Linked DNA regions of Homo sapiens. The protein of the gene in region 7 purifies or fractionates together with the protein of the main gene of each other region. This does not show direct contact. Each region holds a gene or a part of one and is shown on either strand. Other genes may lie near its edges.

The links.
Region 1: the proteins of SLFN11 (region 7) and DDX55 purify together in Homo sapiens (affinity purification with mass spectrometry, with the first as the bait; one study listed by BioGRID). This does not show direct contact.
Region 2: the proteins of SLFN11 (region 7) and MKI67 purify together in Homo sapiens (affinity purification with mass spectrometry, with the first as the bait; one study listed by BioGRID). This does not show direct contact.
Region 3: the proteins of SLFN11 (region 7) and DDX56 purify together in Homo sapiens (affinity purification with mass spectrometry, with the first as the bait; one study listed by BioGRID). This does not show direct contact.
Region 4: the proteins of SLFN11 (region 7) and HELZ purify together in Homo sapiens (affinity purification with mass spectrometry, with the first as the bait; one study listed by BioGRID). This does not show direct contact.
Region 5: the proteins of SLFN11 (region 7) and SMARCA1 purify together in Homo sapiens (affinity purification with mass spectrometry, with the first as the bait; one study listed by BioGRID). This does not show direct contact.
Region 6: the proteins of SLFN11 (region 7) and CASP9 purify together in Homo sapiens (affinity purification with mass spectrometry, with the first as the bait; one study listed by BioGRID). This does not show direct contact.

Annotation. Positions count from the first base shown.
Region 1 is NC_000012.12:123,600,696-123,604,898, reverse strand, and holds the start of DDX55 (ATP-dependent RNA helicase DDX55), read right to left. Parts: upstream 2,801-4,203; 5' UTR 2,751-2,800; coding exon 2,643-2,750; intron 1,052-2,642; exon of another isoform or gene 1-1,051. UniProt on the Homo sapiens protein: Probable ATP-binding RNA helicase. Has ATPase activity and is involved in the maturation of precursor large subunit rRNAs.
Region 2 is NC_000010.11:128,116,424-128,119,923, reverse strand, and holds part of MKI67 (proliferation marker protein Ki-67), read left to right. Parts: intron 1-604; coding exon 605-671; intron 672-3,387; coding exon 3,388-3,433; intron 3,434-3,500. UniProt on the Homo sapiens protein: Protein that associates with the surface of mitotic chromosomes and acts both as a chromosome repellent during early mitosis and chromosome attractant during late mitosis.
Region 3 is NC_000007.14:44,568,107-44,570,908, forward strand, and holds part of DDX56 (probable ATP-dependent RNA helicase DDX56), read right to left. Parts: intron 2,772-2,802; coding exon 2,652-2,771; intron 2,023-2,651; coding exon 1,909-2,022; intron 1,798-1,908; coding exon 1,703-1,797; intron 1,098-1,702; coding exon 1,024-1,097; intron 887-1,023; coding exon 797-886; intron 118-796; coding exon 12-117; intron 1-11. UniProt on the Homo sapiens protein: Nucleolar RNA helicase that plays a role in various biological processes including innate immunity, ribosome biogenesis or nucleolus organization. Plays an essential role in maintaining nucleolar integrity in planarian stem cells.
Region 4 is NC_000017.11:67,235,197-67,238,696, forward strand, and holds part of HELZ (probable helicase with zinc finger domain), read right to left. Parts: intron 1-3,500. UniProt on the Homo sapiens protein: May act as a helicase that plays a role in RNA metabolism in multiple tissues and organs within the developing embryo.
Region 5 is NC_000023.11:129,448,249-129,450,490, reverse strand, and holds part of SMARCA1 (SWI/SNF-related matrix-associated actin-dependent regulator of chromatin subfamily A member 1), read left to right. Parts: intron 1-2,047; coding exon 2,048-2,158; coding exon of another isoform or gene 2,159-2,182; exon of another isoform or gene 2,183-2,189; intron 2,190-2,242.
Region 6 is NC_000001.11:15,500,216-15,503,715, forward strand, and holds part of CASP9 (caspase-9 isoform alpha precursor), read right to left. Parts: intron 1-3,500. UniProt on the Homo sapiens protein: Involved in the activation cascade of caspases responsible for apoptosis execution. Binding of caspase-9 to Apaf-1 leads to activation of the protease which then cleaves and activates effector caspases caspase-3 (CASP3) or caspase-7 (CASP7).
Region 7 is NC_000017.11:35,353,214-35,356,621, reverse strand, and holds part of SLFN11 (schlafen family member 11), read left to right. Parts: intron 1-2,562; coding exon 2,563-3,286; intron 3,287-3,408. UniProt on the Homo sapiens protein: Inhibitor of DNA replication that promotes cell death in response to DNA damage. Acts as a guardian of the genome by killing cells with defective replication.

The DNA.
Region 1 (4,203 bases), on a different chromosome or scaffold from region 7:
ATAGTGCCAACAGTGAGGACCCTGCTTCAGGCCATTGCTGTCCAATAGAAATAAAATGTGAACCACATAAACAATTTTAAATTTTCTAATAGCCATAGTAAGAAAAGTAAAAAGAAATGGGTGAAATAAATTTTAATATTTTATTTAACCCAATATATCAAAAATATTGTCCCTTCACATTTAGTCAATATTTAAAAATCAGCATTTTCCATTCTTTTTTCATACTAGGTCTTCAAAATCTAGTGTGTTATTTGATACTCAGAGTACACTTTGATTTGGACAAAGTGTATTTCAAGCACTTGATAGCCATGTCTGATGACTGTGTAGTGGATGACAGGTCTAGACAATGAGCTCTGAGGCCAGAGATTGGGTCTTGCTCGCACTACATTCCCTAGGCAGGGCACATAGCACTCCCAGTTTTCATCTCCAGCCCTGCCTGCTGGAAATACATTCTCCACATTCCCGGGAATCTTATGGGCATCTCAAACTCAAGACTTCATTTATTTAAAAAAAATTTTTGTGATGACAGGGCCTCCCTATGTTGCCCAGGCTGGTCTTGAACTCCTGATCTCAAGTGATCCTCCCACCTTGGTCTCCAAAAGTGCTAGGATTACAGGCGTGAGCCACCGTGCCCGGCCATTATTTATTTTAATTTCGAAGATGCGGGTCTCACTATGTTGCTCAGGCTGGTCTTGAACTCCTGGGCTCAAGGGATCCTCCCACCTCAGCCTTCCAAACAAATGGTACTACAGGCGGGTGCCACTGTACCCAGCTCAGTGTTTAAAAACAGGACTCTTGTGGTCAGGCGCAGTGGCTCACTCCTGTAATCCCAGCACTTTGGGAGGCCAAGGCGGGCGTACCTGAGGTCAGGAGTTCAAGACCAGTCTGGCCAACATGGCGAAATCCCGTCTCTACTAAAAACACAAAAATTAGCCAGGCGTGGTGGTGTATGCCTGTAACCCCAGCTACTTGGAAGGCTGAGATGGGAGAATAGCTTGAACCCGGGAGGCAGAAGTTGCAGTGAGCCGAGATCGTGTCATTGCACTCCAACCTGGGCAACAGAGAAAGATTCCGTCTCAAAAAAGTTAAAAACAAACAAACAAACAAAAAACAAAAAAAAGAACTCTTGACTTTCCCTCTGAAACCTGATACGCACGCCAGTCATTCTTGGGAAATGGTAACACCATTCACTCAGCTACTAATAAAAATCAGCCGGGTGCGGTAGCTCAGCCTGTAATCCCAGCACTTTGGGAGGCCAAGGCGGGTGGATCAGGAGGTCAGGAGTTCAAGACCAACCTGGCCGAGATGGTGAAACCCCGTATCTACTAAAAATACAAAAAATTAGCCGGGCATGGTGGCAGGCACCTGTGATCTCAGCTACTTGGGAGGTTCAGGCAGAGAATTGCTTGAACCCAGGAGGCGGAGGTTGCAGTGAGCCGAGATCGCGCCACTGCACTCCAGCCTGGGCAACAGAGCGAGACTCCATCTCAAAAAAAAAAAAAAAAAGAATAAAAACCTCAGGTCCTGTAGTCTTTTCTTTCCTAACCTCCACTTCCAGTCCCTTAGCAACCTTAAAGCTATCCCAAATGTGACTTCTCAGTATCCACTGGTTCCACCCTACTCCAAGTCACCATCATCTCTTACCTGACAATGGCCTCCTAAGCGACCTGCCTGCTTCATCTCTTATGCCTGGAAAGGCCACTCTCTACAGAGAAATCACAGCCCTTCCCTTCCTAAACATCCTCCCAGATAAGATGGCTTCCCACTACATTTAGAATGAAATCCAAGCGCCTACAAGACCCTGCACAATCCATCTCTTACACTACTCTTGATGTTCAGCCACAAAGGCCTCCTTTCTGCTGCTCAAACTATTTGCAGCCTGCCGCAGGGCATTTATGTGCACTGGTATTTCTCTCCAGTGGAATAATCTCCCCCTAGTCACCTCAGAGCCAGCTCCTTCTCAATCACTGAGGTCTCAGCTCAATGCACCTCCTCAGAGAGGCCTTCCTTAACACCCTATCTCACCTCCTCTGCAGTCCTCGCGCGACACTATCACAACCGTCTTAGTTCTTTCATAACACTTACCAGCAGCTGAAATTATCCTTTCTCTAGCTCTTGCACTAGAAAGTAAGGCTATGAGCAGATGCCAATACTGCAAACTCCCCAGAGCCTAGAAGAGTTCCTGACACATAGCAGGTCCTCAAGAAATATTCTTGAAGAGATGCATAACAACGGTAACCCTTACTGAGCTCCCATAGTGTGCCGACTGGTTTATTTAGTCCCCACAGCAACCCCATAAGGAGGGTGTTATTTTTTCGTCATTTCACAGAGAAGGAAAATGAAGCACGGAGAGGTTAAGCCATTTGCCCGAGGTCTCACAGCTACAGCGAGCAGGGCCAGGATGAGAACCAGGCTTGAGACCACAGCACCCGAGGGCGGGGTGGGTCGCGGCCCCTCTGCCGGCTCGCTGGCCGGGCAGCTCCGCATTCCGCCAGTCTGGGCAGCTGGAGACAAGGCAAGAGCCCCAGCTGGAGGGATGAGCGCCCCAGGGCTCAGATCTGTCCGATCACCTCCTGTGGGTCCGATGCAGCGGGTGCCTGCCCCTCTCCCAGCCTCACTCCCCCACGCCAGGGAACCGATACCTGCACCGGCGTCATGTACGGGAAGCCCAGCTCCCGCAGCGCGCCCAGCACCTGCGGGTGCAGCGGCACAGGCAGCGACTCCCAGGAGCCCTCTGTCACATGCTCCATGGCGCGCTCCTTCGCCGCGTCGGTCGCCGCTGCTCGAACGCGCCTTGTGCACCCCCAACGAGCACTTCCGCTTCCCGCAGCTCCAGCGGCCGGCCGGGAACTTCGCTGGAGCAGCAGAGTTCCGGAGCGCGGCGAAGGCTCCCACGCCGCGGGAGGGAGGAAAGGCGTCCGCGGGACGGTGGAGGCAGGCGGCGGGGCAGGCCTGGGGAGTTACACCCGCTCCGCACAGCGCCCTGGGCTCCGGGCGCCTCTCCGCACCGGGCAGGAGTTTTGGCGGGAGGGATTCTGGCCCGGCCCTCCCACTTTCTCTGCCCCTCGGAGGCAGGTGGCAGCACAGGACCGCGTCCAGGCCGAAGGACAGCGGGGCTGGCTACCGTGGGCAGAGAAACGTGTCGGGGACCCGGGTTAGCAGCCCTGCAAAACAGGCACCCGCTGATGGCCGGTACGTCCTGAATGTTGCGGTCCGATGGCCGGTACGTCCTGAATGTTGGTTTACTTTCCCGGAAGTTAGGGTCAGAGTCCTAACTAAGAACACTGTCCCATTCCTCTGTTCACTGTTTGCCTGGGCCATTCATGTCCACATACAACTTCACTCAGAAAGCTGTTTTTGTTGTTGTTGTTGTTGTTGTTGTTGTTTGAGACGGAGTCTCGCTCTGTTGCCCAGGCTGGAGGCTGGGCGCTATAACGGTTCACTGCAAGCTCCGCCTCCCGGGTTCACGCCCTTCTCCTGCCTCAGCCTCCCGAGTACCTGGGACTGCAGGCGCCCTCCACCACGCCCGGCTAATTTTTTGTATTTTTAGTAGAGACGGGGTTTCACCGTGTTAGCCAGGATGGTCTCGATTTCCTGACCTCGTGATCCGCCCGCCTCGGCCTCCCAAAGTGCTGGGATTACAGGCGTGAGCCACCGCGCCCGGCCTTCACTCAGCAAACTTTTATTGACCACTCATTATGTGCCCTCTATGAGGGCCTATCTCCTCCACCTATGTGCATGGCTTGCTCCTGTTGAGGCTCTGAAAACGAAACCCCAAAATGAAGGCCCCAGAGGCAGCCTCAGAAGCAAGTTTCTCTCTGACCTTCTGCTCCCTCTCTGATCTCTGATTCTCTGAGGCTAGCCATAGAAACTCAAGAATCCCTCTTGCCCATGACGGAGCATAGAAACAGGAATCCCTTTTCTCCACAGTCAGCCATAAAACCTAAAAATATTACTCTCTCTCCACCTTTCTGTGAAAAAACTGGCCATAAAGAAATTATTGGCCTGGCACGGTGGCTCACGCCTGTAATCTCACCACTTTGGGAGGCCAAAGCGGGCAGATCTCAAGGTCAGGAGTTCGAGACCAGCCTGGCCAATATGGTGAAACCCCGTCTCTACTAAAAATACAGAAATTAGCCAGGCGTGGTGGCGCATGCCTGTAGTCCCAGCTACTCAGGAGCCTGAGGCAGAAGAATCGCTTGA
Region 2 (3,500 bases), on a different chromosome or scaffold from region 7:
CACTGAGGTTTGCCAGGACAATTATGTATCTTGCTAAAGGTGATCTTCTTAAGATGTACCTGTCTTGTTCAGATACAGACTGAATGTGTGGGAAACTGAAGTGATCATAGTGTTCTAAAATATAGGTTTGTAGTTACCCTGTAGTGTAAGTGTAGCTTTTTATTTACCCTGAAGTATGTAACTTCACAACGTGAGAAAGATTCAGTTACCTACAGGCTTCCTGGCTGGCCTTCCAAGCCATCCGATGATTTCCATGGACTTAAACTAGAAGAAACTTGACTTTGCTCTCATGTGCATTAGCTTATGTCATAGAAGGTGCTTGGTAATATTGTCAAATCATACCTGGGCTGTTCGTCAGTGATCAGAAGTTAATCTGGGTCCCCAGCCTCTGACAGTGGTATTTCAAAACAAACTCGATGCAACTAATCCTAGTTTTTAGTGTAAAAGCACTTTTCTAACTCTAAATTTATTTCTTTGTATAAGGTGATGTCTTGAACTAAACCCAAAGTTTGTTCGTTGATCCTTGGACATTAAGTGGATATGGAGACTTCCGCCCCAGGGTATAAATTTTTAATCAGGATCTTTGTCGTTCTATAAACTGCAGGTATGAAAATGAAAGTCTTCAGAATGGAAGGAAGTCAACTGAATTTCCAAGAAAAATACGTGAACAGGTGATAGAAAATATCCAAGTTTGGGCTGATTCGTTTCGATGATATGAAATCATTTATGTATGCTTTAATGATTTCTTACTTGAAATCAGTTACAAAGAGGGTGGTTACTGTTATAGTAGGAAAATGTAACTAAAGTATAAAAACGAGTTGAACTTAGACGTATTAAAATAATCTAAAATGATATTTCCTCTTTATTGTTCAAAATCAGAGCACTAAGTTGGTCTTACACTTTTAGCCAAAAAGTCTATTAGAGCATGTTGCGAGCTTTTTGCAAACCCATGATTAGGATAACCCCAACACGTAGAGCTAACATTTGGGAATTGCATTATCTGGTGGCTCATTTTGTCGCCCAGTCATTGTACTCATCCGTCTTTATGTGTCTGAAATAATCACATTATGAAAATCATGAGTGCCAAAGATGCTTCTCTATTTTGATAGATAGACGACCCATGAAACAGGAAAAGGGATCCTGTGCTTTGTCTTGTGAGAGAATCCTATAGTTTGAGTGTATCAGTGTGGAACAGGTATTCCAATTGTACAGCTTATGAAAACATAATTGTCGACACGTGCTTCGCAATTTAGATAGTTTGAGTATATCAGTGTGGAAGAGGTATTTTAGTTGTACAGCTTATTAAAACACAGTTGTCGGCATGTGCTTGGAAATTTAGTGGGATTTAGGCTTAGGATGAGCCCTGAGAATTCATATTTTTCCTACATTTTAGAGTGCTCCTAAAGCTAGTTTCAGATGAGCTCCTTGGAATATCTTGGCTTAGGAGAGTTATCTTAGGTGCACCTGAAATTAGCAGTAGGTACTCTTGAATTTCAACATTTCTGCCTTTTTTTTTTTTTTTTTTTCTGAGACGGAGTCTCACTCCGTCACCCAGGCTGGAGTGCAGTGGTGCGATCTTGGCTCACTGCAACCTCCGCCTCCTGGGTTCAAGCAATTCTCCTGCCTCAGCCTCCCGAGTAGCTGGGACTACAGGTGCACACCACCATGCCTGGCTAATTTTTGTATTTTTAGTAGAGACAGGGTTTCACCATATTGACCAGGCTGGTCTTGAACTCCTAACCTCGTGATCCACCCACCTGGGCCTCCCAAAGTGCTGGGATTACAGGCTTGAGCCACCATGCCCAGTCCATTTCTGCCATTTAAGTACTGCCTTCTTCCCTAGAGGAGCAGCCTTAATGTTGAATCTGATGGTCATCAGTTCCCGTGCTGGAAGCCAGTTTCTGAGGCATCCCACACTGTAGCCACCAGGCAACTTGCTAGTCTATGGGAGTAAATAAACCAAAAAGCCAGTTGAACTGTGGGTTAGATATGTGCCACTCAGCAGTCTAGGAACTGTTTGTTCTGTTACTGGTCTGTGATATAGTGAGTACTGAAATGGAGTATGTAGTAAATATGACAGCAATTCGACAGCAATTTTGTGGCTATTGAATGTAATCGTACAACAAAAGTGAGATTATATACTTTACATATTCATAATTTTATTAGTGGTTCATTTATATTGTTTAGTCATAAGATTCTTGTTCCACTTCAGATTGGAAATAAAAAACCATCCCTCACATAGATAGTTTTAGAAGCAAGGTGTTACGTATCAAGAAACCTAAAATTGATTAAGGAAGTTAGATTCTTTGCCTTTGTTAATATTTTTTAGATATTTTCTTAATAATCCAGATGATAAGCTTTTCTTCCTTTGGGGCATCAGACTTTTATAAAAGTTATATATATATGTTATTCTTTAGTTCTTCCACCCTTCCGGAAATAATTCCATATGAAGGAAAGTTAGGGCGCTGTCTCTGGGGAGCCAGGTGGGGGCGCTGCGCCTGCTCCCAGGCTGTGAGGTTGCAGAATCTGTGAATATACCATGTGTGCCTGTACCATGAATTTACCTAGGGTGAATCTAGGCTCTCAGATCCACCCTAAGTATCCACCAGCCAAGAGGGCGCACATGCCAAGTGGAGCCTCAGTTCATCGACAGGTCCTATGGCCCATTTATGAGAAAACTGATGACGCAGTCAGTAGTTCTGAGCTCGTGGGGGGTTACAGATCTTCAGTATAGGTGATGTTTAATATTGACTTTGGTTCTTCCGCAATAGGATGTTGGGAAATATCTTTAAAGGAAGTTATAAAAACACACCGAGGTTTGATTTTAGTAATTTTAAGCCTCGAATTTGTTTCCTATTAATCACTCACTATTTTTTAATGAGTCAGCTAATAAGTACTTTTATCCTGACCACTAGCTCCCAACTGACTTGAGCTCATTTCTCAAACAGTCTTTAAAAGTCATATACGAGTGGTTTGGTAAAGAAAACAATTTTTTATTGTTTTTATTTTTATTTTTTGAGACAGAGTCTCGCTTTATTGCCCAGGCTAGAGTGCAGTGGTGCAATCTCTGCTCACTGCAACCTCTGCCTCCCGGGTTCCAGCAATTCTCCTGCCTCGGCCACCTGAGTAGCTGGGACTACAGGCACCTGCCACCACATCCAGCTAATGTTTGTATTTGCAGTAGAGATGAGGTTACATCATGTTGGCCAGGCTGTTCTCAAACTCCTGACCTCAAGTGATCCGCCCACCTTGGCCTCCCAAAGTGCTGGGATTACAGGCATGAGCCATCATGCCCAGCCAGAAAACAATAAATAATATTTTCACTGTTGTGACTGTCATCATTTAGAAAGACCTGCAAATAACTGTTCTTATTTTCCCAACTTACAGGAGCCAGCACGTCGTGTCTCAAGATCTAGCTTCTCTTCTGACCCTGGTGAGTAGTGGTTGGGTTTTGTTCCAGAATCCTGAAAGATCAGGTCTTTGCGAAGCATATTGGCAAA
Region 3 (2,802 bases), on a different chromosome or scaffold from region 7:
GCCACACTCACCCAGGTAGTCAGGAACATGGCCCAGGTGGGGCTTCACCACTGCGGGGTGCAAAGGTAGGTCATGCCGCAGCAGCTGGAGGTCCCTAGGGTTGTCTTCAAAGTATGTCTGCCGGGGGAAGAGGGAGAGCCACAGAGTGAGCATCTTTCTTCTGTGACTTCACAGACCTAGCTTTTCAAAGGATAACACACTCATGTGTTTCAAAAGGCATGAGGCAGCTGCTTCTGTGCATTTCTCAGAACCTCCCGGGAGTGGATGTTTCCATTTTCCCTTCTCCATGACACACATGGCAGTACCCTGTACCCCTTTTTGCTGGGCATCATCTTACAGACTGTTCCATATGGACACGCAACCAACCTCATTCCTTCCCATGTAACCTTCGGCTCTGAATGCACCTGAGTTTACCTAGCAAGCCCCCTATGGTGGCCCCAGGCTGTTTCCATCTTTTGGTTCCATGATAATGCCATGGATGGATGAATGCAGGCACATGCTTGACTGTGCACATTCACAAGCGTGACCAGGATTAAGTTCCAGAAGTGGAATTTCGGATGAAAGGACACATGAGCTCGTAATTCTGCTGGACAGTGTCCACCATAAGGTTGTGCCAATTTACCACCAAGCAGAACAGACTGGCTTCCTTCCATGATTCTGGGTCCATTTCCTCCCCTTCCGTGCCAAAGGCCAGAAAACTGCCCAGTTCTCTGCTTCTCACCACTCGGAGCTCAGCCAGTCTCCAAAAAGGGCAGCCGTCTAAGATCTATCCCCTTCTCACCTCCCATCCACTCACCTTAAGCTTCTCAGAATGCAGAAGCTCTTCCTTGATCTCCTTCAATCTTGCCTCCCGAATGGCCTGCTTAGTCACTGAGCGCATGGCATCCTGGGGGTGGACACTGAAGGTCAAGACAGTGAGGCTGCCCCAAATCCTCCCTTCACACCTGGATGCTCAGCAAGACGGTGCAATCCCTGGGCCACAGCCCCTCCCCTCTCATTCCCCTCCCCACCACAGCAGCTCACCCTGCAGCGATAGCGGAAGCCCTCGATCTCCTCCATCCGGAACTGGTAGGGGAGCAGAATGGGGCCCCTGTTCTCTGTGGAGAAGAAAGCAGCGAGGGTCCCACAGGCTGAGGCCTTAGGATAGGGTCTTCATTGGAGGCCTCCTGCACCTCCCCCTTGGGGGAAAGCAGCAGGGGACCCACCGCCTTCCTGGGATGCCGAACATGCAGGTTAGCTGCACCTGGGCCTCTTACAGTGATGACCCATCTGTCCCCGTGTGTGGATGGGGGTGGCCTGTGTGGCCCCAAGCCCAAGAACCCGTCACCCACTCTCTTCTCCTCTCCCAAGGAGTACCCCATGGTATTCCTTGGGAGTCAAGGTACCCCCATGACGACGGCCACAGAGAGCAGTCCAGGACCACCCAGCACCCTGGGGTCAGGTGCTGTCCTGAGCTGTCACAGCAGCCTGTCAGGTCACTCAACGCTCATGAGGCAGACAGTAAACACAACTTTGGACAAATTACCTCAATTTGTTTATCTCTCAAGGGGGACAGTGCCTGCCACTCAGGGCAGAACAAGGATGGATGGTGGAAGTGGCCTGTCACACTATGTTGTGACCTCTGTCATCATTATCATGGAGTTTTAAAGCATTGTGGAAGAAGCCTGACCCTGGCCCAGGACCACAAGAGCCAGGCTCTTACCTCCACTGAGAAGCTCCTCAATCTTGCCTAAGTGGAACTGCTCCGTGGGAAGCACAAAGGTTAAGACTATGCCTGGGTTGTTAGCGCGTGCTGTCCTGCAAGGGAAGACAGTGCAGCTTGCATCTCCAACCCGCAGGCTCTGTCCAGCACACCCCAAGTCCCTCAGTGTGCCTACCATGCAGATGCCTGGGCCGTCACACTACTACCTGCCAGCTCGATGGATGTAGGCCTCAGGGGTTGGGGGAAGATCAAAGTTGAGCACAGCAGACACATGGTGGAAGTCTATGCCCCGGGCCACACCTGCTTCCGGATCAGAGGCCCTGCAGAGATAACTCAATGTCAGCCGGACCCTTCCTCTCCTCTGGGCACGTATTCACACGCTGAATCAGCAAAACTTCCTCTAAATGCCTGTAGATCATAAGACCCTGACATACAGAGGACTCTCCAACAATGGAACCGTTCCAGGAGTCAGGGTTTCCTGGGGCAGCCTGGAGCTTTGACATGTACCCAAATCTCGGCCTGACCTCTGTTCTGGGACAACAGCAGAACTCATTGCCCTACATGGTGATCTGAAAACCAACTCTGAGCTAGTCAAGCCTTCAGCTGGACAGAGACTGGAGAGTTGGGGGGTTCCTTTTCCCTTCAGAAATATGCTCCCTGCAAGTCACAGCCATACCACCAATGCAGGATGGGCCATCTCCCCTGCAGGGCTCTGCATGCCAACAACCCCGGCAGTTTTGCCCTTCGTGGTGCATGTGCAGTGTGCACCATCCACTCCCTTCTCTATATCCAGGCAGCTGAGCAAGAACCTGTGGGGCTCTCTGGGCTACACTACCAGCCAGGCCTGGAAGGTTTGGCTCCCTGCTCTGTGCACTCTGGTTTTAGTCTTCCAAAAAGCTAAAAACACAGGCATTTCTGGGGAGGGATGGAAAAAGAGGCATGGACTCACTTGTCCCCTTTGGGCCCTCGGCCCCGACGCTTGCCCTTGACTGGGGCCCCCAGGACTTCAGCATCAGTTGCTATGACACAGTCGTAGAAGCCTTGGTTGAACTGTGAGATGATGTGGCACCTGCAGCCAAGAGCGGACAGAGAATCAGCTC
Region 4 (3,500 bases), about 32 Mb from region 7:
TCCAAGCAGCCACAAAGAGACAACAGAAGGCCGGGCGCGGTGGCTCACACCTGTAATCCCAGCACTTTGGGAGGCCAAGGCGGGTGGATCACGAGGTCAGAAGTTCAAGACCAGCCTGAACAACATGGTGAAACCCCGTCTCTACTAAAAATACAAAAATTAGCAGGGCATGGTAGTGCGCACCTGTAATCCCAGATACTCAGGAGGCTGAGGCAGGAAAATCACTTGAACCAGGGAGGCGGAGGCTGCAGTGAGTCGAGATCGTGTCACTGTACTCCAGCCTGGGCAACAGAGCGAGACTCCCTCACAAAAAAAAAAAAAAGAGAGAGACAACAGAAGCCAGAACCCACAAATGGTCAAGCCTCAAGCAGTGTCCTGCTTCAACCCAGCACATGCCATCACAAGAACTTGAGAACCACTCAGAGGAGCAGTGATACAAAGGGGCTCACAGCAGATGCCCAATAAATACTTGCTGAACTGAATCCTGGAATAATCCATCTGTTCCCCTTCAAACACTCTTCCCAAGATCATTTACCATTTTGACCACACACTCTTTTTTTTTTTTTTTTTTTTTTTTGAGACGGAGTCTCCCTCTTTTGCCCAGGCTGTACGCAGTGGTGCTATCTCTATCTCGGCTCACTGCAAGCTCCACCTCCCGGGTTCACACCATTCTCCTGCCTCAGACTCCCGAGTAGCTGGGACTACAGGCACCTGCCACCACGCCCGGCTAATTTTTTGTATTTTTAGAAGAGACGGGGTTTCATCGTGTTAGCCAGGATGGTCTCGATCTCCTGACCTCCTGATCCGCCCGCCTTGGCCTCCCAAAGTGCTGGGATTACAGGCGTGAGCCACTGCACCCAGCCTCGACCACACACTCTTGTGAACAATTTTTACTGACCATATTATACCAGCCTTACCATTCAAAGCCTACAATAGTTAATTGCATAATATAGCAACTGATATCAACAAACAGTTCACCATAAAGAGGCTCAAATAGTTAAATTCAACATTATATAACAAAGAAATGAAAGTGCCATTTTACACTATTAAATTCACAAAAACTTCTGAAGAAAAATGGTTTTCTCTACTACTTATGGTAAAACAGGTATATCCATATATCTGTTAGGAGCACAAACTGGTATAACACCCTTGAAAACAGTAGGACAATATATGTGAGGAGCCATAAAAACACTGATACCCCTTAACATAATAACACACTCCAAAATTTATCCTTAAGATATCATTAGAAAAAATGCAACAGTATCTACAATGATGTAGATTAAAGTGTTAACTGAAAACCACCCAGACAGCAGTATAAATACTTCACATAAAAAGACTTAGGTAAATTGTAGCATGACTTGATGAAATTATTTTTGCAGCCTTTCAATATATAAAGTTAAATTATAAAATCTATAAGATGTAAATGTTTCATGATATAGTAAGTTTTTAAAAATCAAACTATAATGTATCATAATTTAAAATGAATTTTAAAATGTATATTTTGAAATGAAATGCCAAAAAGAAAATCAATTGTCTTAGGATAATAACCCAACATTTAACAATTTATTTATTATCAATTTATTCAACATTAAATAATAAAGTTCTACCCTACCAAGGAAATGAAGGGGTTCCAGGACACAAGCTTGATAAAGTCTCAAAAGGACCACCCCTCCCTTCTACTGCTCACTTTGGCCTTGACTGAGTGTTTTCATACTCTCCTTGGTCATGATGACCTATACTAACCCAAACCCCAGTTTTTCAAGGACCAGCCAACTGCCTCAATTGGTCCTCTGATCATCCCTATGAACCCGTGGGAGACAAATCATGCAAAACAAGCGAACACTCAAGAAACAAAGAACCTGGCCGGGCGTAGTGGTTCACGCCTGTAATCCCAGCACTTTGGGAGGCCAAGGCGGGTGGATCACCTGAGGTCAGGAATTCGAGACCAGTCTGACCAACATGGCAAAGTCCCAAGCTACTAGGGAGGCTGAGGCAAGAGAATCGCTTGAACCCAGGAGGCAGAGGTTGCAGTGAGCCGAGATCCCACCAGTGTACTCCAGCCTGGGCGACAGAGTGAGACTCTGTCTCGAAAAAAAACAATTTTTTTGATTTATTTATTAGTTTAACATTTATTACTTTAACAATTTACTTATTTATTACTTTAACCAATCAGCAAGTAGTCAGCCCAAGTTTCACTGTAAACCCTAAAAATATACAATATTGCCACATTAAAGTCTCTGGGATTCTCAAGGCTAACTTGCTGACTTAGCAGTGGACTGTATCAGTTAAAAGGCAGTGTGGACTCAGACAATCAAAGAACCAGGGGCCAGGAGACCTGAGAACAATTAAAAGCAAAATGTAGATAGATTTTTTTTTTAACTACAAAAAACACAAAGCTAAAAAGTCCAGCTTAAACCAGATGAGTAAAAAAATAGCTGGAGATATTCTTTTAAGTCTTAGCCAGAGTGCAAAAGGGAGGATGGAAAGTCATTTTATTAAGAGCTGAAGCTAGCCCGGCACAGTGGCTCACACCTGTAATCCCAGCTCTTTGGGAGGCCAAGGCGGGTGGATCACTTGAGGTCAGGAGTTCGAGACCAGCCTGACCAACATGGTGAACCCCCATCTCCAGTAAAAATACAAAATTAGTCAGGCGTGGTAGCGCACACCTATAGTCCCAGCTACTTGGGAGGCTGAGGCAGGAGAATCACTTGAACCCAAGAGGCAGAGGTTACAGTGAGCTGAGATCGCCCCATTGCACTCCAGCCTGGGCAACAAAAGCAAGACTCCATCTCAAAAAAAAAAAAAAAAAGACCTGAAGCTTTTTGCGGATGAAGATATCTCACAAAAGACAAGTACTGAAAATTCATGGCCAGGCATGGTGGCTCACACCTGTAATTCCAGCACTTTGGGAGGCCAAGGCAGGTGGATCATGAGGTCAGGAGTTTGAGACCAGCCTGGCCAACATAATGAAACCCCGTCTTTACTAAAAATACAAAAAAATTAGCCAGGCATGGTGGCAGGCACCTATAATTCCAGCTACTTGGGAGGCTAAGGTAAGGAGAATCGCTTGAACCTGGGAGGCAGAGGTTGCAGTGAGCTGAGATTGCACCACTGCACTCCAGCCTGGGCGACACTGCCAAGACTCTGTCTCTCAAAAAAAAAAAAAAAAAAAAAGGAAGAAAATTAATTTAAAAATAATTTTAGGTCGGGTGCGGTGGCTCACGCCTGTAATCCTGACACTTTGGGAGGCCGAAGCGAGTGGATCACCTGAGGTCAGGGGTTTGAGGCCAGCCTGGCCAACATGGTAAAGCCCTGGCTCTACTAAAAATACAAAAAGTAGCTGGGCATGGTGGCGGGCGCCTGTAATCCCAGCTACTCAGGAGGCTGAGGCAGGAGAATTGCTTGAACCCAGGAGGCGGAGGTTGCAGTGAGCCGAGATCGTGCCATTCATTGCACTCCAGCCTAGGTGACAAAAGCGAAACTCCGTCTCAAAAAAATAA
Region 5 (2,242 bases), on a different chromosome or scaffold from region 7:
TGTCAAATTTGCTTTCAAGAAAGGTAGTGTATTAGTCAGCTTGGGCTGCCATAACAGAATGCCACAGACTGAGTGGCTTAAGCAACAGGAATTTATTTTCTCACCATTATGGAGACTGAAAGTTCAAGATCAAGGTGCCAGCAGGGCTGGTTTCTGGTGTGGCTTCTCCTCCTGGCTTGCAGATGGCCACCTTCTGCACGTGGCATTCTCATATGGCCCATTGTTGGAGTGCGTGCAGAGAAAGGGAGAGCTTTGATGTCTCTTCCACTTCTTACAAGGACACCAGTCCTATTGGATTAGGGCTCCATCCATAGGACCTCATTTAACCTTAATTACCTCCTTAAAGTCCCCATCTTCAAATACAGTCACAAGTCCCCATCTTCAAATACAGTCACATTGAAGGTTAGGGCTTCAGATGAATTTTGCGGAGACATACCTCAGTCCATAGCAGATAGTAGCATTGACATTTCATCATCAGTGAATGAAAGTTCCCGTTTCAGCATCTTATTGTCAATGTCAGATATGTATACCATATATGTGCACATGCACACAAGCATGTACATATTGCTAATTTGATGAAGATGGCATTGTTTTACTTTGCATTTCTTTGGTCATTAGTTGCAGTGAAACTTGATTATAATGTTTGGACTTTTTTTTTTTTGGTGAGTTTTCTATTCCTGTACTTTGACCATTTGTGTGTGTGTGTGTTGGGGTTGTTCTTAATTGCCAGTAAACCTACATTTTCACTTGAGTGTTTAGCTATTCTGGCAGGCATTTTTGCTTATACAGAAAAGGAATCATATTTTAAAATATTATTTATCCTTTGATATTAAACCATTATTTACCTTTAAAATATAGCAAAGTATACAGGGTTAATAATATATGATATTCCGTATTAATGAATCATGTTTAATGTTCACCATACATTCGTAAAAAGTATTTATAGTTTGCATGCATTGATTTGCTGACAGTGAAATATAGGTAGTGGCAAGGTTAATGTAGAAATCTTTTCAGATATTATTTGCTCTGAATTAACAAATACAGCAGTGTTTCCTGTGATGTGGTCCCCAGAACTCTGATCCCACAAGATGTCCGGTGAGAAGAAAGTCTGTTGGTTAAATATTTTTGACAACTGCTGCATCCTGTACGCCCCACCTAGTGGTTCACAGTGCACATAGGGAACTGAAAGGCTCTGAGAAGCCATGTAATAAGTAAATCTGTTTAACTTTTGTAAACTGGGTACTTCCAAAACTTATTTTGACCATAGAACATCCCCTTATTTTTTTTTGTTTATGTGATTTATGTTAACTTTTTATTTTGAAATAAGAAAATTCACAAAAAGTTGTAAAGAAAATGTACAGGGAGGTCTCATGCACCCTTCACCCAGTTTTCCCCAATAGTAACATTTTGCAAAACTATAGTAAAATATCACAACCAGGAAATTGACATTCGTGTAATCTATAGAGCTTGTTCAGATTTCATCAGTTATACATGCGCTCGTGTGTGTGTGTGTGTGTGTGTGTGCAGTTCAATGCAGTTTTGTCATGTGTAGAGTTGTGTAACCTCCACCACCATAAGACTCCATTGTGCTATCTCTTTACAGTCACACCTACCCTCTCTCCTCTCCCTAGCTCCCGGCAACCATTGATCTGTTCTCTCTTTCTATAATTTTGTCATTTAAGGATGTTATATAAATGGAATAATATGGTATGTAACCTTTCGAAATTAGCTTTTTTTTTTTACTTAGCATAATTCCCTTGAGGTTCATTCAGATTGTTAACTGTATTAATAGTTCTTTCCTTTTTATTGCTGAGTAATATTATATGATATGGATGTATCATGGTTTGTTTAACCAGTCATCCATAAATGACATTTACCCCCACTCCTAATTCTGGTGGAATCTATTAATACCCTGTGTGAATATTGTCCTGAAAAATAGCAGTTTTGGAAATTCTATACCACAGAAATCATACAGTTAAATAGTTGTCAGCGTTTTAAAGATAATGATTGGGTTGCAGAAATTAAAAATCTTTATTACTTCATTTAGGAATTCCAGAGACGCTGTAACACTCTGATTTCATTGATTGAGAAAGAAAATATGGAAATTGAGGAAAGAGAGAGAGCAGAAAAGAAGAAACGGGCAACTAAAACTCCAATGGTAAAATTTTCAGCATTTTCCTAACTTTTAGGTAGATCCCATTTTTTTACATAATTAAAATGCCTATATTATGTTTAATGCCAT
Region 6 (3,500 bases), on a different chromosome or scaffold from region 7:
TCCAGAGGGTCCCCTGCAAAAACACTCCTGGAGAATGTGACTGTGATCCAGGCCCTGATGCCATCAGGGAGAACGGTCCTGGTGAGAGAGACAGCAAGTGCTGTGGCCGCAACGCAGGCAGGTTTGCATGGCTGGATCTATGTGACTGAGGGAAGTCACAGTTCACCCAGAGGAGCTGGGGGCCCATCTGGCAGGAACAGAGGTGGCTCTGGCAACCCCATAATAGTAACACCAAAATCTATTGACCTCTTACCCCACACAGCTAAAGCTCAGAAACCACTGGTCATTGGCATTCTCCCAGCTGATATGAGGGGCGCGGAATTCTGCCCCATGTTTTTTGCCTCTCAACTATCCCACTGCTTCTCACGGAGGCCCCCAGCCTCCAAAGGGGGGCCTCTTTGATCTGTGACAGCCATGTTTTTCTCCAGATTTTGTGGTTCATTGCTTCTGGTTGTTTTCTTGGTAGAGACTCCGGAATCTGCCCCAGGTGTCTGGGAATGACGTGAAACAGCACAGCAAGGAGGCCTGAGGCGTGAATGTGATGGTGCTGGGTCTGCCTGGCAGCCTGTGGGGGCGGAGGGATGCCTAAGTGGGGGATGCCGTTAAGAATGGCCAGAAGAGACAGGGTGAGCAGAGAGGCTGAGAAGAGACAGCAGATCAGAGCAGGGGGTGTGGGGGAAAGGAAAGAGGGGGTCAGGCGGGGCGCTAAGGCAGCTCCGTTCACGTGTCAGCCTCAGCCCACAAATCTGATGTGAAGGCCTTGCCTAGGGTGTTCTGCACTGTATGCATGGCTTGGTTCTTGGAGAGCCTCGGTTCTTAGAGAGCCTCATTAATGCAAAACTCCCCGTAGGGCAGGACTCATTCCCCACAAGAATAAATATACAGTAGGAGGAGATGTTCCCTCCGCACAGAAAATCCACGACCACTGCAGCATATTGTCATTGCTTTCTGTCTTCTCAGCCCGATCTCTCAAATCCCAAAGAGGGGTCACCCCAAAATTGACGGCTCAGCCTCAGAGAGGTGGCTACTTGGTTGCCTATCACGCTGACGTTGCACACCAAAGTTATCGACTTTAATGCACATTTTTCAGCCCTGGTGCTGTTACCTCCTAATGAATGGGTGGATGACATGTTGGAGGGTTTTAAAATTATTATTTAAAAATGATTTTTAAATTATTTATTATTATATTTAAATTAATTATTAAATGATTTTTAAATTAAATATTTTTAAAGTATTATAGTGAGTTATAAAATAGCAATACAAGAGTCCTCAAAACCCAGGACAGGTGTTCTGATGCATGTAAACAGACCCCTCGCCAGGCACTAGTGAAGAACGGGGACCTTTCTATTTCTGCTCTCAGCTGACGTGGCGCCACCATGTGGTAACTGCGTTAAGCACCAGGTCACGCAGCCTGCGGAGGCAAAGCAAGGACCCGACTCCAAAGGGATATCTTAATCACTGCATGCTGGCTTTGAAATCTTGCTGTTTTCTGTGAGTTTTGTTTTAATGATGGAAATCTACATTATGCCAAATTTGGCTCATATTTTTTTTTTATTTTTTATTTTTTTAGAGACAGGTGACAGACTGGCTCTGTCACTCAGGCCGGAGTGCAATAGTGTAAACATGGCTCACTGTAGCCTCGACCTCCAGGGCTCAAGCGATCTTCCTGCCTAAACATCCCAAGTAGCTGGGACCATAGGCACACACCACCAGGCCTGGCTAATGTTTTAAATTTTATGATAGAGACTGGTCTCAAACTCCTCGTCTCAAGAGATCCTCCCACCTTGGCCTCCCAAACTGTTGGGATTACAGGCGTGAACCACCACAGATGCTTTTGTATGGTTCTCCTTTACATTCAAATTAGAATCCACATGAGACGCAACCAGACTGTGGGCTCTGTGCCAGGCTGGGGGCCTGGCTGCAGGGTAGGCCTGGCCCTCCCCTCAGAGCTGACCAGGGGATAAGCCCATCTCAATACAATGAGACAGTGCTATGGTAGGGGAGGGACAGAGGCTGCAGGAGCACAAAGGCCAGCTAACCCTGACTTTGGCCAAGAAAGGGGGTGTTTAGGGAAGTGACAATAAATTGTAACCAGAAGGATGGATGATTAAGAGTCAGCCAGGTGCCAGGCACGGTGGCTCATGCCTGTTATCCCAGCACTTTGGGAGGCGGAGGTGGGAGTATCACTTGAACCCAACAGTTCAAGACTAGCCTGGGCAATATAGTGAGACCCCCATCTCTAAAACAAAATAAGTAAAAATGAATTTTAAAAAAAGAGTTAGCCAGGGGAGCAGGTAGAAGAGCAAGCAAGAGCCTGGACATCCTGGGAAGGCTGGGCCGTGCTGGGGACTCGGAGCATGCCAGGCTGGGGAAGGTGAAGTGGCAGGGGCCAGGTCACCAAAGGCCTTGGAAGCCCTGCTACTGAGTCCTAAGAGTGACAGCAGATATTCACGTGACAAAGGCCCTCCCTGCTGTTGAGACTGAGACTGGATGGGGCATGGGAGGAGCACAAGACTGACTAACTGTCCAGAAAGTAGGTATGCCTGCTCAGCCTGCATTCCTAATTCCCCTGCCCTTTCTGTCTTTCATTTGATTCATAGGAGAAAGAGGGACCGGAGGCTCCGAAGGAAGAGCATTGCTGGACCACACACTGTGGATAAGACAGGAGGTGAGGCAGAGCAGGGTTTCTACAGCCCCGAGAGTGGCAGCCTTCCTCACTTCCTGTTACTGTTGTCCTGAGGGAACTCTGCTGGCGACAGCGGGGTGGGGGACTCTTATGTGACACTGGGTCCTCCGGGGTGGGAGCGGGGGGCAGGCTGGGTTTTCAGTTATTAAAATGAACCAATCACTGTACACACACCAATTAGTGCATTAAATATTATTAAAGTTGCCTGGGCACAGTGGCTCACGCCTGTAATCCCAGCACTTTGGGAGGCCGAAGTGAGCAGATTGCTTGAACCCAGGAGTTCAAGACCAGCCTGGGCAACATGGCAAAACCCTGTCTCTACAAAAAAAAAATAGAAAAATTAGCTGGGCATGGTAGTGTGCACCTGTAGCCCCAGCTACTCAGGAGGCTGAGGTGGGAGGATCACCTGAGCTTGGGAGTGGGTTCTGTTATTTTCCCCATTTGCTGAGCTGTCTAGAGATGAACTGGCCCAGGGCTGTGTGATAGATAGGTCAGTAGCCCATCCAGGGTTAATCAAGTGTTCTCAATCACTTGTGGTCAAGTTATGGGCATGGGTCATGACAGTGACTTAATACAGTTCATGTCAAATTATAAATTCCAGGAGACTGAAACTCTGTTTTTCCCCTATCCCCAGCACCTAACGCACAGCCTGGTATATACAGATGGTGCTCAATAAACACTTACTGGATGAATGATGTGACCAGAGACTGCTCTCCTAGGTAGCCTCCACCCAACTCCACCAACGTGGAATAGGGATGGGGCAGTTGGATGTGCACAGGAGAAATAGACCACAGGTGCCCATGTCACAGCTGGA
Region 7 (3,408 bases):
GTGCATTGATATGGAAAGATCTCTACCATACATTGCTAAGTGAAGAAAAAAGTAGTTGCTGAATGGTTTGCTACCTGTTGGGAAAGAAAGGGCAGAATATTTGTTTGTATTTGCATAAAGTAATTTCGGAAGAATAGGCAAGAAACTTAAAAGTATCTGTGATAAGGGAGAAGGGTGAGATTGGGAAGGCAGGAAATTAAGAAAATGAGAGTAGGAGTGTTTGGGTATTTGGTATAGGAATATATTAACTAAAGTTATTTTTTTAAAAGACAATTTTCATTTTTGGAACACTGTTATTGTTATTAGATTTTGAACATTAATGGTGGTAAACAAACTATGTTTATACTTTTACAATTAGAATCCAGATATTAAGAATAAAGATGTTCTTAGCACACTAATTATTAGCATTGATTGACAATAATTTGGCTTCAGAATCAATGCTGTCAGTGCTTCTCTTGGAAGAAATGCAATGATTGTCTCAAATAGAAATTTTGTCTATAACTGGAGTTACTGGTACTAAAGATAGTCAGGGCCTGGTGTAGTAGGTCAGAATCAGCCAGCTCCAGTGTTCTTCCTCTTGGTGTCCTAAACCTTTAGGATACCTCACCTGATTGATTTCTTATGGTTTGAGAACAACTGCCCTGGACCCTTCACTGCTGATTCTAAAGATTCCCTAGATCCATGGTGAAATTAGTTCCCAGAATGGATACAAAGTGGGAGCTCTGAGGACAGAAGGATGAATATGGGAGTTCTGGGGAGGGTGAGGAGTTTATCAAGTGATCAAGGTGGAAGTCTTCAGAGTTTCAGAGCACACCTGTGCAAAGGCACAGAGTCCTCAAATCACATGGGGAGTGGTGACTACTCTGGTGCACCTGGAATGATGGCATTAATTGAACACCTAGTCTGGTCCCTATCATTACTGTTATGTGGAATATCAAAGAAATGAAAGAAGCACTTCTTATCTTCCTATAATTTCCTTCAGAAGCATGCTCCATTATACAATTAAAGAAAAAGAAGACCTATGCAATGATAAGGTAAATAAACATCAAGTGTTTTAGTGACTTTTACCATTTATCAGGCAGGAGTAGTCTGTGACTTGCAGGGCAGGGCAAAAACAGTAGAGGATCCGATGTCCAAGAGACTTGGGTTCAGACTCGCCCTGCCATTTCCTAGTGGTGTGATGTTGGGCAAATCACTTGATCTCTTTTATTTTTTATTTTTTGAGACAGTATCTTGCTCTGTCGCCCAGGATAGAGTGCAGTGGTGCAGTCATAGCTCACTGCAGCCTTAAATTCCCTGGCTCAAGCAATCCTCCCACCTCAGCCTCCTGAGTAGCTGGAACTACAGGCCCATAGCACTGCACCCAGCTCTCACTTGACCTCTTTGAGTCCTTATCTACTCATATGAAGATGGGAATAAATATGTCATCCTTGGAAAATTTGTGAAGACCAGAGATACATGCAAATTCCCTGGTAACAATCAACAAATGATGTATTTTCTTATTTTACATTTCTTTGGTTTCCAAAGCTTCATTTTAAACATATACTCAATTATCCTATTTTATCCATTCTAAGATGTGTATCTCCCCCTATATTTTAACATCTCTAAAATCTGGATGTGTCTCATAATAGATGCTATCTCCTACTGTCATCTAGGTTGCAGGGATAATCAAGTCGTGTGAGCACCTGGTACGAATGAGAAAGCACTAGCAACAATGAACAAGAAACAATTACCAATAAAATCTGGGTAATTTCATTTGAAATTACCACTACAAATCTTGATTTGGGTTTGTACTCTAACACTACCACAACAGGACAACAATTATCTTCCTCCCCCTCCCACTTTGGAACCCTTGATCATTGAAATAAGTTCATAATCCTCCAATGCAAGTATATTCTCGTGTCACATAATTATTTCTTGTTTGCCTGTGACACAGGGAAGACTTTTGTGGTAGTGGGGAGCCATACGTTGATCTTTAAGTGATGCAAGAATTCTGCTTCAGGAGAGATAGCTTTAAGAATCTTCCAGTCCAGGACTGCAGGAAATTCGCTGCCAACAAAGGTTTTAATATGACTCCCTCTCCTCTGCAACTATGGAGTTAATGACTACCTTCTTCCTGTGGCAGTGGAGGAGGGGGGGCTCCTGCTACTCCCAGCAATGGGGCATTTTGAGATTCAGGTACTTTGAAAGTAGAAAGGGGAGGAGGAGAACCAACATTTCTCAAGCAGCTACAATGAGCCAAACATTTTATGTTATTTCATTTATTCCTCCTCATAGGAAATGTGCTATTCTTAGTTTTGTTTTACAGATGAGACAGCAAAGTCTTAGGCTAAGGAATTTCCCAAGGTTATAAGTTGTAAAAAACACATGGGTTTAGATGAAGTATACCAGATATTCCAAGGGTTCTTTTCCTTTATAACTATAATATAATAATATTTATAAAATAGTATTTGAAACTTCTATAAGTAATCATTTAGTTAATCAATTAGTTAATTATAATTAGTCATCTTAATCAATAGGGTTATTTCTCTTCCTCTAATTTATCATTCTTTTCACATACAGTCCCACCAGGATATTTGCGATATACTCCAGAGTCACTCTGGAGGGACCTGATCTCAGAGCACAGAGGACTAGAGGAGTTAATAAATAAGCAAATGCAACCTTTCTTTCGGGGAATTTTGATCTTCTCTAGAAGTTGGGCTGTGGACCTGAACTTGCAGGAGAAGCCAGGAGTCATCTGTGATGCTCTGCTGATAGCACAGAACAGCACCCCCATTCTCTACACCATTCTCAGGGAGCAAGATGCAGAGGGCCAGGACTACTGCACTCGCACCGCCTTTACTTTGAAGCAGAAGCTAGTGAACATGGGGGGCTACACCGGGAAGGTGTGTGTCAGGGCCAAGGTCCTCTGCCTGAGTCCTGAGAGCAGCGCAGAGGCCTTGGAGGCTGCAGTGTCTCCGATGGATTACCCTGCGTCCTATAGCCTTGCAGGCACCCAGCACATGGAAGCCCTGCTGCAGTCCCTCGTGATTGTCTTACTCGGCTTCAGGTCTCTCTTGAGTGACCAGCTCGGCTGTGAGGTTTTAAATCTGCTCACAGCCCAGCAGTATGAGATATTCTCCAGAAGCCTCCGCAAGAACAGAGAGTTGTTTGTCCACGGCTTACCTGGCTCAGGGAAGACCATCATGGCCATGAAGATCATGGAGAAGATCAGGAATGTGTTTCACTGTGAGGCACACAGAATTCTCTACGTTTGTGAAAACCAGCCTCTGAGGAACTTTATCAGGTAAGCAGTTGGATCTTACGTCTCTAAGTATTATTTAATCTGGGTTTAATTTTTTCTGCTAAGTCACCGTCTTTCTTGAGAATTGAGTGGTAAAATGATCTGTGGTAATGTACTGTGCTCGG